Regions from separate parts of the Homo sapiens genome. Here regions 1 and 3 are each reported to be linked to region 2. The links are microRNA targets in miRTarBase. Many come from high-throughput screens and were not tested one by one. Region 2 holds a microRNA gene; each other region holds the end of a gene's coding sequence. Distances are between the middles of the regions.

Evidence for each region. Region 2 holds the annotated microRNA hsa-miR-6884-5p (AGAGGCUGAGAAGGUGAUGUUG, at 2,192-2,213, shown strand). A microRNA usually pairs through its seed, bases 2 to 8, with sites in the 3' UTR of a target mRNA and lowers its output. Matches are read on the target gene's strand: a 7mer-m8 pairs with bases 2 to 8, a 7mer-A1 pairs with bases 2 to 7 and ends in A, and an 8mer does both.
Region 1: the mRNA of RAP1GAP2 is a reported target of hsa-miR-6884-5p. Seed matches in the 3' UTR shown: 7mer-m8 at 3,626-3,632.
Region 3: miRTarBase lists SYTL3 as a target of hsa-miR-6884-5p. The part of its 3' UTR that is shown has no 7-base or 8-base seed match.

The regions. Positions count from the first base shown.
Region 1 is chr17:3,032,119-3,036,226 of GRCh38, forward strand. It overlaps RAP1GAP2 (RAP1 GTPase activating protein 2), which reads left to right. Exons shown (of 25, transcript NM_015085.5): 24 at 293-331; 25 at 1,274-4,108. The coding sequence ends at 301. Among named protein-coding and RNA genes, the nearest start is that of OR1D5, 29 kb to the right of the region's middle.
Region 2 is chr17:40,024,488-40,028,595 of GRCh38, reverse strand. MIR6884 (microRNA 6884) reads left to right here and starts at 2,187; the gene lies at 2,187-2,264. It overlaps MED24 (mediator complex subunit 24), which reads left to right. Exons shown (of 26, transcript NM_014815.4): 15 at 650-687; 16 at 1,131-1,213; 17 at 1,562-1,740; 18 at 1,850-1,949; 19 at 2,265-2,440. SNORD124 (small nucleolar RNA, C/D box 124) reads left to right here and starts at 951; the gene lies at 951-1,054. RefSeq lists an enhancer at 1,039-1,949.
Region 3 is chr6:158,764,055-158,768,162 of GRCh38, reverse strand. SYTL3 (synaptotagmin like 3) reads right to left here. Exons shown (of 18, transcript NM_001242394.2): 18 at 3,292-3,668. The coding sequence ends at 3,559. EZR (ezrin) reads left to right here. Exons shown (of 14, transcript NM_001111077.2): 13 at 651-902; 14 at 1,085-2,415. The coding sequence ends at 1,249. It overlaps MIR3918 (microRNA 3918), which reads left to right and starts at 3,410; the gene lies at 3,410-3,502.

The DNA of each region.
Region 1 (4,108 bases), 37 Mb from region 2:
GGGCTGGTTCCTGGGTCCCGAATCCCTTCCTGAGCTCTCCAGACTATCGAGAGCTCCAGGTCCAGATGTGAGGTGGGAAGGGCTGGTTCCCGGGTCCCCCAGTCCCTTTCTGAGCTCGCCAGACTATCGAGAACTCCAGGTCCAGATGTGAGGTGGGAAGTGCTTGTTCCTGGGGTCCTGAATCCCTTCCTGAGCTCACCAGACTGTTGAGAGCTGAGTGCACAGAGCCGCCGTGGAAGGGACCTGTGCTGTCTGGTTATTTAAACTCCTGTATGGATTTTTGTTGAAACAGGGTCACTAATGTGAAAGTGGAGTCCTTCGCCTGTCCAAGGTGGGTTGAGTGAATGTCCTGCTGTGGCCGTGAGGGGGGACGTGTGTTTCTTTTAGATCAGGGAACTAGAGGCCTTGTAACCTCAGAATGGCCGGAGAGATGCCGCCAGCTGGGGATGTCCAAAGAGTCTCCTACTCGCCCCTGAAGACCTGCAATGGGGAAGGAGGGGCAGATGGCCTGTGTGCGGATGGGAAGGGGGTTCCCAGTGACACTGGACTAGACGTACTAGTTAGGCCTCCCTTCCACCGATGGGGTCTGGTTCCCGCAGGCAGAAGGGGAGTCGCCCAAGCCCGCTTCTGACCCAGGAGGGAGGAGTTCCTGAGGGCTCCCTTGCTCCCCTGCCCTCAGGCAGCTGTTCCCTCCTTGTGTCTTTGGCGGAGGCCCTGGGCTGAGGTGTGTTCTCCCTCCCTGTCGGGAGTCAGCACTGTGAGGGACCACCCCAGGAGGCCTCTTCCCCTGCCTGCTTTGAGGGGGCACGTGGTTTGAGCAGAGTGGCCGTGGGTCCAGCTCGCCCCCATCAAGGCCTGGATTTCTGCTGGGGAAGTCACCAGAGACCCATCTGAGCTCCCAGCCCTCTCCCCACATGGGGCTTCAGGGGTCAGAGTCACAGCTGGAGCCAAGAGGAGGGGTACAACCGAACCCACTCTGTGTTCAACCTGATTTATGAAAAAGCAGAAGACAAATGGGCATATGGACCTTCACCCCCGGCTCCCATCACGCACTCTGGACGCCACTGCCCACCAAAGCCGTGGCTATGCGCAGCTTCTCGGGCCACGCAAGGTGGGGCACCCTTACATCAGGTGCCCTCCTGCTCCTGAGTGTATCCAGTGAGCTGTAGCCATGGGCAGGCGTGTTCCCCACCCCTTGCTCCCGACGTCCGCGTCGTCCCCTCCTTCCTGTACGGAATGTTCGCTCATCGCCGCCTCCTCCTTGTCTCCTCAGGGAATCCCCTCTTCTGTCCTGGAAAAGGCTCCTGTACCAGCAGTTTGGGAGTGCCGTCCACGACCCTGACAGTCCCAGCCCTGCTGCCCCATGGCCACGTGCCCACAGATGTGCTGTTGGTCCAGGTGTCCCAGTCTGGCCACAGCCCTGCCTCCGCCCTCACCTACATGCCCTCCCAGCCCCTCCCATCTCTGGACGAGGCCTCCTTCCTCAGGTTCCTCCTGCTCCTGACCTCCCAGTGTGATGTCCGGGTCCTTTATCATCCTATTCATCCTGGAGAGGAAAAGTGTCGGGCAAAGGGGGATCTGGGGGGAGCTCAGCAGTGACTGGGGAGCTGGTCTGCCTCAGAGACAGAGTAGGGGGTGGGAGCAGAGCCTCGGTGAGGGTCTTGGCCACAGGGCAGTGCCTTCCTGAACGTGGCAGGCTTTACTACCAGGAACGCACTCGGTGGTGGAGGCCCCATGTTCCCAGGAGCCAAGATTCGTAGCATCCTTGAGGCCATCCTGATAAAATTCGGCGCTATTGCCCCCGTAGCTCTGGAGCTCTAAACCGTCTATCTGCTTCTGTGCTGAACGCCTTTCCCATCTGCTGACGTAGGCCCAGGGCTGCCCTGCCCCTGCTGCCAGTGTACCGTGAGCGGGGCTCCAGCCAGTTCAAGCTCAGAGCCAGAGCTGGACGGGCCAGAACTGCGCTGCACACTTCCTGGACTGAGGCGGGGACTTTGGGTCCCACCCGGTTTCTCCTGATTATGGCTGCTGTGGGGTGAGGGGAGGGAGGGGCAGCCCCGAGGCAGTCTCTTCCCTTTGAGAAGATATTTTCCCACAAAGGGGTGGGAAGCCAGGAGTGAGAAGGAATTCAGGGAGAGCAAAGGAGCCAGTGCTGAGATGCTGCTGTGTTGGTTGAGGAAAACCTCGGGCCTGAGGGCCAGGCCGGAGCCCAGGTCTCTGCTGACAATGGGGGTTCAAGGAAGACGTCGTTATCTCCCCTCCCCACTTACTCGAGGAGAGAGGTGAGGGGGGGATGACTTGCGGGTTCTGATCAGGCCCCTGGGTGGGGAAGGGGCACAGTGTCCCTCAGCAGCTTACGCCCCTGGAGTCTTGGGGGGCCCAGCCTGGCCCTGGGGCCTTTTCCAGCTACTGTGCCCTTGGGCAGCTGCGTCTGGGGCTCAACCCCCCAATCCTGTTCCCCTCTCCAGCTGCGGGTCTGTAGGCAGCTGTCACATCTGAAGGGTTTCTGCAACCTGGACCCCATCTGGGTGTGGGTCAGACCCTGTGACCCACATGCCACCCCCACCCTCCACAGAGCCCCCTTGCTGGGACAGCCAGCTCACCTCCAAGGACATCCCCTCCTGGCTTCTCCCCCTTCCGAGTCTGCAGCGCCGTGGGCTTCTCTGCCGATGGGCCCGGGTTGGGGTTAAGGTGGGCATCCTCCAGGTACAACGAGCCTGAAGAGCCCCTTTCAGTGCAGACGGGGCTGCAGAGTGACACTGGCTGGGCACCTGCCCCACGACCAATGACAAGGATTTCCAGCTGAATGCTTTATTCCCATAGGGATCTGGACCTGTGCCCAAGATATAAATACTACACTTTTTTTTTTTTTTTTTAACTGACATTGTGAAATTCTCCCTATAGCTTTTGCCATTCAAGCAACATTGTGATCTTTCTTCCCCGCCACGTGTGTGGGAATGATTGAGTCCTGTTTGCAAGCTGGAGAGGAGCTCTCCCTTTGCTAGTACTTTCTCTAAAGTACTAGTCTAGTAAAATTTATTCTTGTTAGAAGGTCAACAAAATATCTGTTTAGCTTTTATGAAGAGTCACCGTAGCAGCCCCCACGGCTGGAAAGAGGCCTGTACGTTCTGGACGCGTTTTGTTGGCTGGGCTTCTGGAGGCACTGGCAAGGTCAAACTGCATTTCTTTAAGAACAGTTGCAGGATCTGGCTCGCCTCTGTGGGAAGCCGGCATTACAGGTGCTTGGTGGATGGGCCGTGTCACATTGCCATCTGGGGTCCTTTGGGGTTTCCAGGTTGTCACCATGCTGTCCCATTTGGGAATCCCATACCTGCCTGTCCCCACTGCGCTGGCTGACCCTTGCTGCCTGCTGCCTCTTGGGAGGGCTTTGTCCCTGCCTCTGAGCTGGTGGGCAGGATGGCTGGGTGGCCCCCAGAGAAGCACAGACCTGAGATGGGGTCTCCATGCCCGGTTTGCTGTTGGAATGATCTGAACAGGACCCCAAATGCCTCTTCCCTCTGGTCATGCCTCACTATCTCTAGGAGCTCCATCCTGTGGCTTCCAGAGTGTGCACTTCCAGCCCACCCGGGCAGTGCTGAGAGGGAGGAGGAGAACAAGGATGGCCCAGCCTCCCCTCCCTCCCCTAGACCACGGGGCGGGCAGCTCGGGTTCCTGGAGGGCTGTTTCCCCCACGCTGTCCCTACATCTGCTCTGATCTAAAATGTCTTTCCTTTTATGCTGCGCCCAGTCTTGGGGCTCAAAGATTTGCCCAAACCTCATTGGCCCTCGTGACTAGGCTCATCTAGATGGTGCTCACGCTGGTGTTTGAGGCATTTCCACTGTGATCTCCACGAGGGGATGTTTTCCGGGACACATCTCTGGCTCTGGGAACTGCCTGACTCACTGAAGAAACTACTTTTCAGGCACTGTAGGGTCACCCATATGCCTCCAGCTCAGTTGACGCTTAAAAACAGGTGCAGAAAAGCTCGCGATGGAAGGTCTTAATGAGAGTGTCTGTCTATGCCAATCATGTAAAATGACGTTTCTTGAAAAAGATTCAGTGGTTCAGCTTTGTCAGCATCATCTCAACACAAGCCTGCTGGCTCTT
Region 2 (4,108 bases):
AAGGGTTGAGGTGTTGAACATTGGGCATGGAGGAATTCCAAGTATGCCCAGTTATTAATAAGGGGCTCTCAAATTCTGTTGCCTTTTTTGATTGCCCTGGAATTTGACATATATAGAACATGGTTCCATTCAGTGAGCCATTCTCTAGGCCTTGGAAATCTTCTAACAATAAAAATCCTTCTGGCCGGGTGCGGTGGCTCACGCCTGTAATCCTAGCACTTAGGGAGGCCAAGGTGGGCGGATCACCTGAGGTCAGGAGTTCAAGACCGGCCTGGCCAACTTGGTGAAACCCTGTCTCTACTAAAAATACAAAAAATTAGCCGGGTGTGGTGGCGGGCACCTGTAATCCCAGCTACTTGGGAGACTGAGGCAGAAGAATTGCTTGAACAGAGGCGGAGGTTGCAGTGAGCTGAGATTGTGCCACTGCACTCCAGCCTGGGTGACAGAGCGAGACTCTTTCTCAAAAAAAACAAAAAAAAAACAAAAAACAAAAACCACAAAAACCTTTTTTCTATAGCAATGTGTCTCATTTTAAGTTTAACCAGTAACTCAGACTCTAGCTATCGCTCTCTGAACATGTGTAGCCCCAGCGCCCAGCTACTGCTCAGCTCATGCCCTGGTCAATGCAGCCTGTCTCCATTCCTTTCAGTTTGAATGAATTCACAACCTATGGCAGCGAAGAAAGCAGTAAGTCAGCCCTGTGCATCCGCAGGCCCAGTGGGCCCTGAGGAGGGGTGTGGCGGGAGAGTGTGGGAGGGAGGAGGGCTCCCCAGCTCAACAGGGGGAGGCTGTGCTCCCTCCTCAGAGCCATGACCAATGGAAGCTTCCACAGAGCTTGAAAGTGGATAATGCTGGAAAAGGATTCTTCCCAGACCATCCCTGTGTCTCCTTCCCCCCCTCATCCCTTTACGACTTGGTTAGGTATGCCAGGAGAGGGTGCTGGGGGTCTTTGGTCTCAAGGAAGGGATGATGTTCCAGTTGAGACTCAAGAAAAGGATTCTGAGCCTCAGAGCTTTGAAGGAGCCACTTGGTCCCTGACCTTCCTAGAGGCAAATCCCGATCCCTGTCAACCCAGACACGGGCTCCCCCCTGCCCTCGTCTGGGAGCTCAGCCTTCCCGTCCTTCCACAGCCAAACCGGCCTCCGTCCGGGCCCTGCTGTTTGACATCTCCTTCCTCATGCTGTGCCATGTGGCCCAGACCTATGGTTCAGAGGTGAGAGAGGGGAGCGACCGGGACGGGGGCTCAAGGGAAGGAGGTAACCCGGAACTCTCCCCACCTCACTGCCTGCGCCCCCGCAGCCTCTCAGCCAGTTAGTTCTGTGGGCCTCAGAAACCAGGTGCCCACCCGGGCTGGAGTCCGTAGAGGCACCTTCAGCCCTATGTTCACATTGACCACTAGGTGGCAGCATTGCCCCCGTCTGGCTCCCTTAGACCAGTTCGTCCCCAGTCTTTGGGCTGGGCTGGAGCAGCAGCCTGGCGGGAAACAGTGCAGCCCCAGGTCCAGCGCTGGCAGGCGCCGCGCCCTCCCCACTCGGCTGGTGCCCCCCTTCCCCTTTCCCAGGTGATTCTGTCCGAGTCGCGCACAGGAGCTGAGGTGCCCTTCTTCGAGACCTGGATGCAGACCTGCATGCCTGAGGAGGGCAAGATCCTGAACCCTGACCACCCCTGCTTCCGCCCCGACTCCACCAAAGTGGAGTCCCTGGTGGCCCTGCTCAACAACTCCTCGGAGATGAAGCTAGTGTCAGTGGCCCGGGCGCCCACTCCAAGGGTGGCGGTGGGGGCAGGGTCAAGACCCGCTCCCTGAGCCCGTTCCTTGCTCCCCTGTGCTGACTTCTCTGCACACCCGCAGGCAGATGAAGTGGCATGAGGCCTGTCTCAGCATCTCAGCCGCCATCTTGGAAATCCTCAATGCCTGGGAGAATGGGGTCCTGGCCTTCGAGTCCATCCAGGTAGCCCCGCCTTCCCAGCAGCGTTTGCTCCCCTGAGACACAGAGCCAGCCAGTGATGACTTGTTATATTTCGTAAGGGCAAGAAGACCTTTAATCCAGGAGCTCATGTTTTGATATTGATATTTTGTGTAATCGTTGTCTTAGCTACTCCCTCTGGCCCAGGTAGCTCTGGGAAGATCAAACTTGTGGAGAGAGGTGTGGAATGTGGCCCGGGACTCCACCCGCTGCACTTAGCTGCCCGCAGAGGCTGAGAAGGTGATGTTGGCTCAAGAAAGGGAGATAGATGGTAGCCCATCACCTTTCCGTCTCCCCTAGAAAATCACTGATAACATCAAAGGGAAGGTATGCAGTCTGGCGGTGTGTGCTGTGGCTTGGCTTGTGGCCCACGTCCGGATGCTGGGGCTGGATGAGCGTGAGAAGTCGCTGCAGATGATCCGCCAGCTGGCAGGGCCACTGTTTAGTGAGAACACCCTGCAGTTCTACAATGAGAGGTCGGTAACCTGCCTTCCCTTCTCAGACCCTTCAAGTGTGTTGTGAGAAGTCAGCACATCCAATAACAAGCACCCCTCTCTTTTCTGACCTTCGCAAACACGCTACTTGATCACTCACTCACTTTCCTATTCATGCATTCACTCATCTGACTCAGCAAACATGTACTGTGTCTCTGTGGCAGAAGCGTTTATATGCCAGCACCTGCTGTGTTGTCAGAAATGCAGACCCTAAACAGGGTCTGCCCGCAGAGACTCAAGTTCTAGACAACTAGCTCCCAAAAGAACAAAGCTGTGTGACTGTCTAGGAGCTAGGAACCTGTCTGTAGATTTTACAGGCCATGCCCCACCCTCAGTTACCTCTTAGGACAGTTTCCTGCCCTGGCTCTTCAGGGGCTTGGAGGACTTCCCTGGTGACCAGTTACGTTGAGTTCATTCACCCAACCAATAAGTTGTTTGCTTTTTTTAATTGTAAAAAACACATAAGATTTGCCATCTTAGCCATGTTTAAGTGTACTGTTCAGTAGTGTTAAGTATATTCACACTGTTGTGTAACAGGTCTCCAGAACTTTCTTGCATCTCTGAAACTCCATACCCACTGAACAACAGCTTCCTATTTTCCCCTCCCTCCAGCTCCTGGTAACTACCATTTTACTTTGTGTGTCTAGGAATTTGACTACTTTATACTTTTTGTTGTTGTTGTTGTTGAGACAAGGTCTTACCCTTGCCCAGATCAGAGTGAGTCTCACTGCAACCTCAAATTCCTGGGCTCAAGTGATCCTCTCGCCTCAGCCTCCCGAGTAGCTGGGACTGCAGGCCCACAGCCGGCTAATTTTTCTAGTCTTTGTAGAGACAGGGTCTCACTATATTGCCAGGTCTTGAACTCCTGGCCTTGAGTGATCCTCTCACCGTGGTCTCCCAAAGTGCTGGGATTACAGGCGTGACCCACCGTGCCCTGCTGAATTTGACTACTTTTTAGATGCCTCATTTAACTGGAATCATACAGTCCTTGCCTTTTCGTGACTCACTGACTTCACTCAGCATGGTGTCCTCAAAGCTCATCCATGTAGTAGCACGTGACAGGAATTCCTTCCTTTTTAAGGCTGAATAATACTCTGTTGTGGGCCGGGCGTGGTGGCTCACGCCTGCAATCCTAGCACTTTGGGAGGCTGAGGTGAGTGGCTCACTTGAGGTCAGGAGTTTAAGGCCAGCCTGACCAACATGGTGAAACCTTGGCCTTACTAAAAATATAAAAATGAGCAGGGAGTGGTGGCAGGCGCCTGCAATCCCAGCTACTTGGGAGGCTGAGACAGGAGAATTGCTTGAACCCAGGAAGCGGAGGTTGCAGTGAGCCGAGATCACGCCACTGCACTCCAGCCTGGGTGAAAGAGTGAGACTCTGTCTCAAAAAACAAAACAAAAACAAAAGAAACCTCTATTGTGTGGCTATACCACATCTTGATCCCTCCTCTGTCAGTGGACACTTCAGTTGCTTCCACCTTTGGGCTATAGTGAATAGTGCTGCTGTGAACATGGGTGTTTACCAGCTAATACGTTTTGGGTGTTGCCATGTCTTTATGGCAACGTTGAGGATGTCTTTATTTATTTATTTATGTACTTATTTTTGAGACGGCGTTTCGCTCTGTCACCCAGGCTGGAGTGCTGTGGCACT
Region 3 (4,108 bases), not on the chromosome of region 2:
GCATAGGGGAAACCACCCCGTAATCCAGTCACCTCCCACCAGGTAATGCCCCCCACCCCCAGCATGGGGGGATTACAGGTGGAGATGAGATTTGGGTGGGGACACAGCCATATCACCATCCCAAGTTGCAAGCGGAAGACTTTGGTTCTTAGGTTTTTGGAGAAAGTACCTGTTAAGTGAGGAGAGCTGGCTACAAAGCAGATCCACACTAAGCTCAACTCTAGGGCTGGCTGGGATGGAGGCGGGCGGGACTGGGTGTGTGTGAAGCTGTTGGAAGGACTGCAAGTGGCGAGCAGGAGAGCACTTGATAATGACTGTGGCATGAAGGGAGGCTAGGAACAGAGCCCGTTACTCATGCTAACAGGATTTTTTTTCTAAAAATTATATAATGTCTAGAGTTACAGGTAAAAAAAGAAATGGTAGTTTTAAAACTGCCCAGGTTCCGGCATCACAGTTCCTCTTCCTGTCTTGGACGCAGAGGGTTGTAAACCCCCCATGCACCCTGAGGGTGCTCCTCTTCGAAGCCACAGCCCAGCACAGTTCAGTGCTGCCTTAGCCTGCCAGGACAGAGGGAGGTGACAGTCTGTTCTCATAGCCAGGAGGATAGGACTTCTGGGTGAGAAGTCCTCTTATTAATTTGCTTTCCAAAGGCCAAAGAAGCCCAGGATGACCTGGTGAAGACCAAGGAGGAGCTGCACCTGGTGATGACAGCACCCCCGCCCCCACCACCCCCCGTGTACGAGCCGGTGAGCTACCATGTCCAGGAGAGCTTGCAGGATGAGGGCGCAGAGCCCACGGGCTACAGCGCGGAGCTGTCTAGTGAGGGCATCCGGGATGACCGCAATGAGGAGAAGCGCATCACTGAGGCAGAGAAGAACGAGCGTGTGCAGCGGCAGCTGCTGGTGAGGCCCAAGGGGCTCTGTCTCCAGGGAGCCTGCCTCGCTTTTGGAGCAGACAGGCTTGGGGAGGGCAGTGATGTGAGCCAGCCCCACCCAGCACCCCTCTTGCCCTTCCTGTTTTCCTAGGGGACGGGCCGGGCCATATGGGGAGGAAGGGACTAGACCAATGCTGCTTAATGTTACAGACGCTGAGCAGCGAGCTGTCCCAGGCCCGAGATGAGAATAAGAGGACCCACAATGACATCATCCACAACGAGAACATGAGGCAAGGCCGGGACAAGTACAAGACGCTGCGGCAGATCCGGCAGGGCAACACCAAGCAGCGCATCGACGAGTTCGAGGCCCTGTAACAGCCAGGCCAGGACCAAGGGCAGAGGGGTGCTCATAGCGGGCGCTGCCAGCCCCGCCACGCTTGTGTCTTTAGTGCTCCAAGTCTAGGAACTCCCTCAGATCCCAGTTCCTTTAGAAAGCAGTTACCCAACAGAAACATTCTGGGCTGGGAACCAGGGAGGCGCCCTGGTTTGTTTTCCCCAGTTGTAATAGTGCCAAGCAGGCCTGATTCTCGCGATTATTCTCGAATCACCTCCTGTGTTGTGCTGGGAGCAGGACTGATTGAATTACGGAAAATGCCTGTAAAGTCTGAGTAAGAAACTTCATGCTGGCCTGTGTGATACAAGAGTCAGCATCATTAAAGGAAACGTGGCAGGACTTCCATCTGTGCCATACTTGTTCTGTATTCGAAATGAGCTCAAATTGATTTTTTAATTTCTATGAAGGATCCATCTTTGTATATTTACATGCTTAGAGGGGTGAAAATTATTTTGGAAATTGAGTCTGAAGCACTCTCGCACACACAGTGATTCCCTCCTCCCGTCACTCCACGCAGCTGGCAGAGAGCACAGTGATCACCAGCGTGAGTGGTGGAGGAGGACACTTGGATTTTTTTTTTTGTTTTTTTTTTTTTTGCTTAACAGTTTTAGAATACATTGTACTTATACACCTTATTAATGATCAGCTATATACTATTTATATACAAGTGATAATACAGATTTGTAACATTAGTTTTAAAAAGGGAAAGTTTTGTTCTGTATATTTTGTTACCTTTTACAGAATAAAAGAATTACATATGAAAAACCCTCTAAACCATGGCACTTGATGTGATGTGGCAGGAGGGCAGTGGTGGAGCTGGACCTGCCTGCTGCAGTCACGTGTAAACAGGATTATTATTAGTGTTTTATGCATGTAATGGACTATGCACACTTTTAATTTTGTCAGATTCACACATGCCACTATGAGCTTTCAGACTCCAGCTGTGAAGAGACTCTGTTTGCTTGTGTTTGTTTGTTTGCAGTCTCTCTCTGCCATGGCCTTGGCAGGCTGCTGGAAGGCAGCTTGTGGAGGCCGTTGGTTCCGCCCACTCATTCCTTCTCGTGCACTGCTTTCTCCTTCACAGCTAAGATGCCATGTGCAGGTGGATTCCATGCCGCAGACATGAAATAAAAGCTTTGCAAAGGCACGAAGCAGCACGGGTGTGTGCTTGTGTGTGGGGTGGGAGGGCTACCGCCGACTCGTCTGGGCTCTATGCTGTCCTCTGGCCAGGTTTCGTGAGGGGCCGTGGTGTCCCTGGGGGTACACTGGTAAGTTGGAGCTGACCAACCCAAGACATGGTGCTCCATGGGTCACCTAACCTCCTCGAGATGGTTTCCACAGGAGAGAAAGACTGCTCCAACACTCATCAGGCTCCTCTAAAATGCTCCTCATAGCCGGGCACAGTGGCTCACACCTGTAATCCCAGCACTTTGGGAGGCCGAGGTGGTCGGATCACGAGGTCAGGAGATCGAGACCATCCTGGCCAACATGGTGAAACCCCATCTTTACTAAAAATACGAAAATTAGCCTGGTGTGGTGGTGCATACCTATAATCCCAGCTACTTGGGAGGCTGGGGCAGGAGAATTGCTAGAACCCGGGAGGCGGAGCTTGCAGCAAGCCAAGATCGTGCCACTGCACTCCAGCCTGGTGACGGGGAGACTCCGTCTCAAAAAATAAAGTGCTTCTCACAGCGAAGCTGTGACTCCCCCCCCCGCCTTGAGACAGGGTCTTACTTTGGCCCAGGCTGGAGCACAGTTGCATGATCGGGGCTTACTGCAGCCTCAACCTCCTGGGCTCAATCCTCCCGGTTCAGCCTCCTGAGTAACTGGGACTACAGGTGTGTACCACCACACCTGGATAATTTTTTGGTTTTTTTGTAGACAGGGTATCTATGTTGCCTGGGCTGATCTCACACTTCTGAGCTCAAGCCATCCACTGCAGCCTCCCAAAGTTGCTGGGATTACAGGGGGGAGTTACCATGCCCACCAGCCGGCCTTTTACCTCATTTGATAAGCACTGGAGGACATGGGTAACAACGTTTATTAAAATCTGGCCATTTTCTACATCTCAAAGAGGAGATAACCCACCAGAGGCTTAGGTAACATAATTGTGTTTAACGTAAATATACACAGATACCAATAGGCGGTTAAGCCATGGGACAGGGCCGCAGATGGAGACTGCTCAAGGTCAAAGGGGTCTCCAGCTGGGACCCTGCACCTGGTTCGTAGCCCCTCTGCAGACGCACAGTGCCTCACGCCTGCTGCAACCTGGAACCTTGAGGCCTTCATGTCAGTGCAGGACAAGAGTCATGTCTGTCCATAGATTGGGGCTGGAAAGGACTTTCTGCCACTGGAGCTTCGATAGTGAGCATGCATCCCCGCCAACAGCTGTGTCTCCCTCTGTAAGAGAGGAAGACAATTTAGCCATGGTCGGGGAGGGCACCACTTCATCCCCTCTCATCCCTTTAAAAATGATGACCAGCCAGAAGTTTTTCACCTCAAGTCCACATTAAAAGGCCAACCACTGATGACAGACGCCGCCACCACCACTCCCACCCCAACAAAGCTGGTGTTGAGACTGGGATTCACGCAGGCATCCTCTGCTCTGCGAGGCTCTAACAGCCTGGAGTTCTGTAGTTTGAAAGTGAGGCGAGGACTCTGGTTTGGTGGGCTGGGTCTTCACCAAGGGAGTGGATAGTTGCACACCAGCATGGCTAGCTGGGTGGGGCCGTCTCAGACTGGGGGCTGGGCTTGCCCATGGGAAGGGATTCTTAGAGGAAGACAGTATGCTTTGGACAAAATATCTTTGAAAAGCAATGGAGCAGTGAAGCTTATTTCTC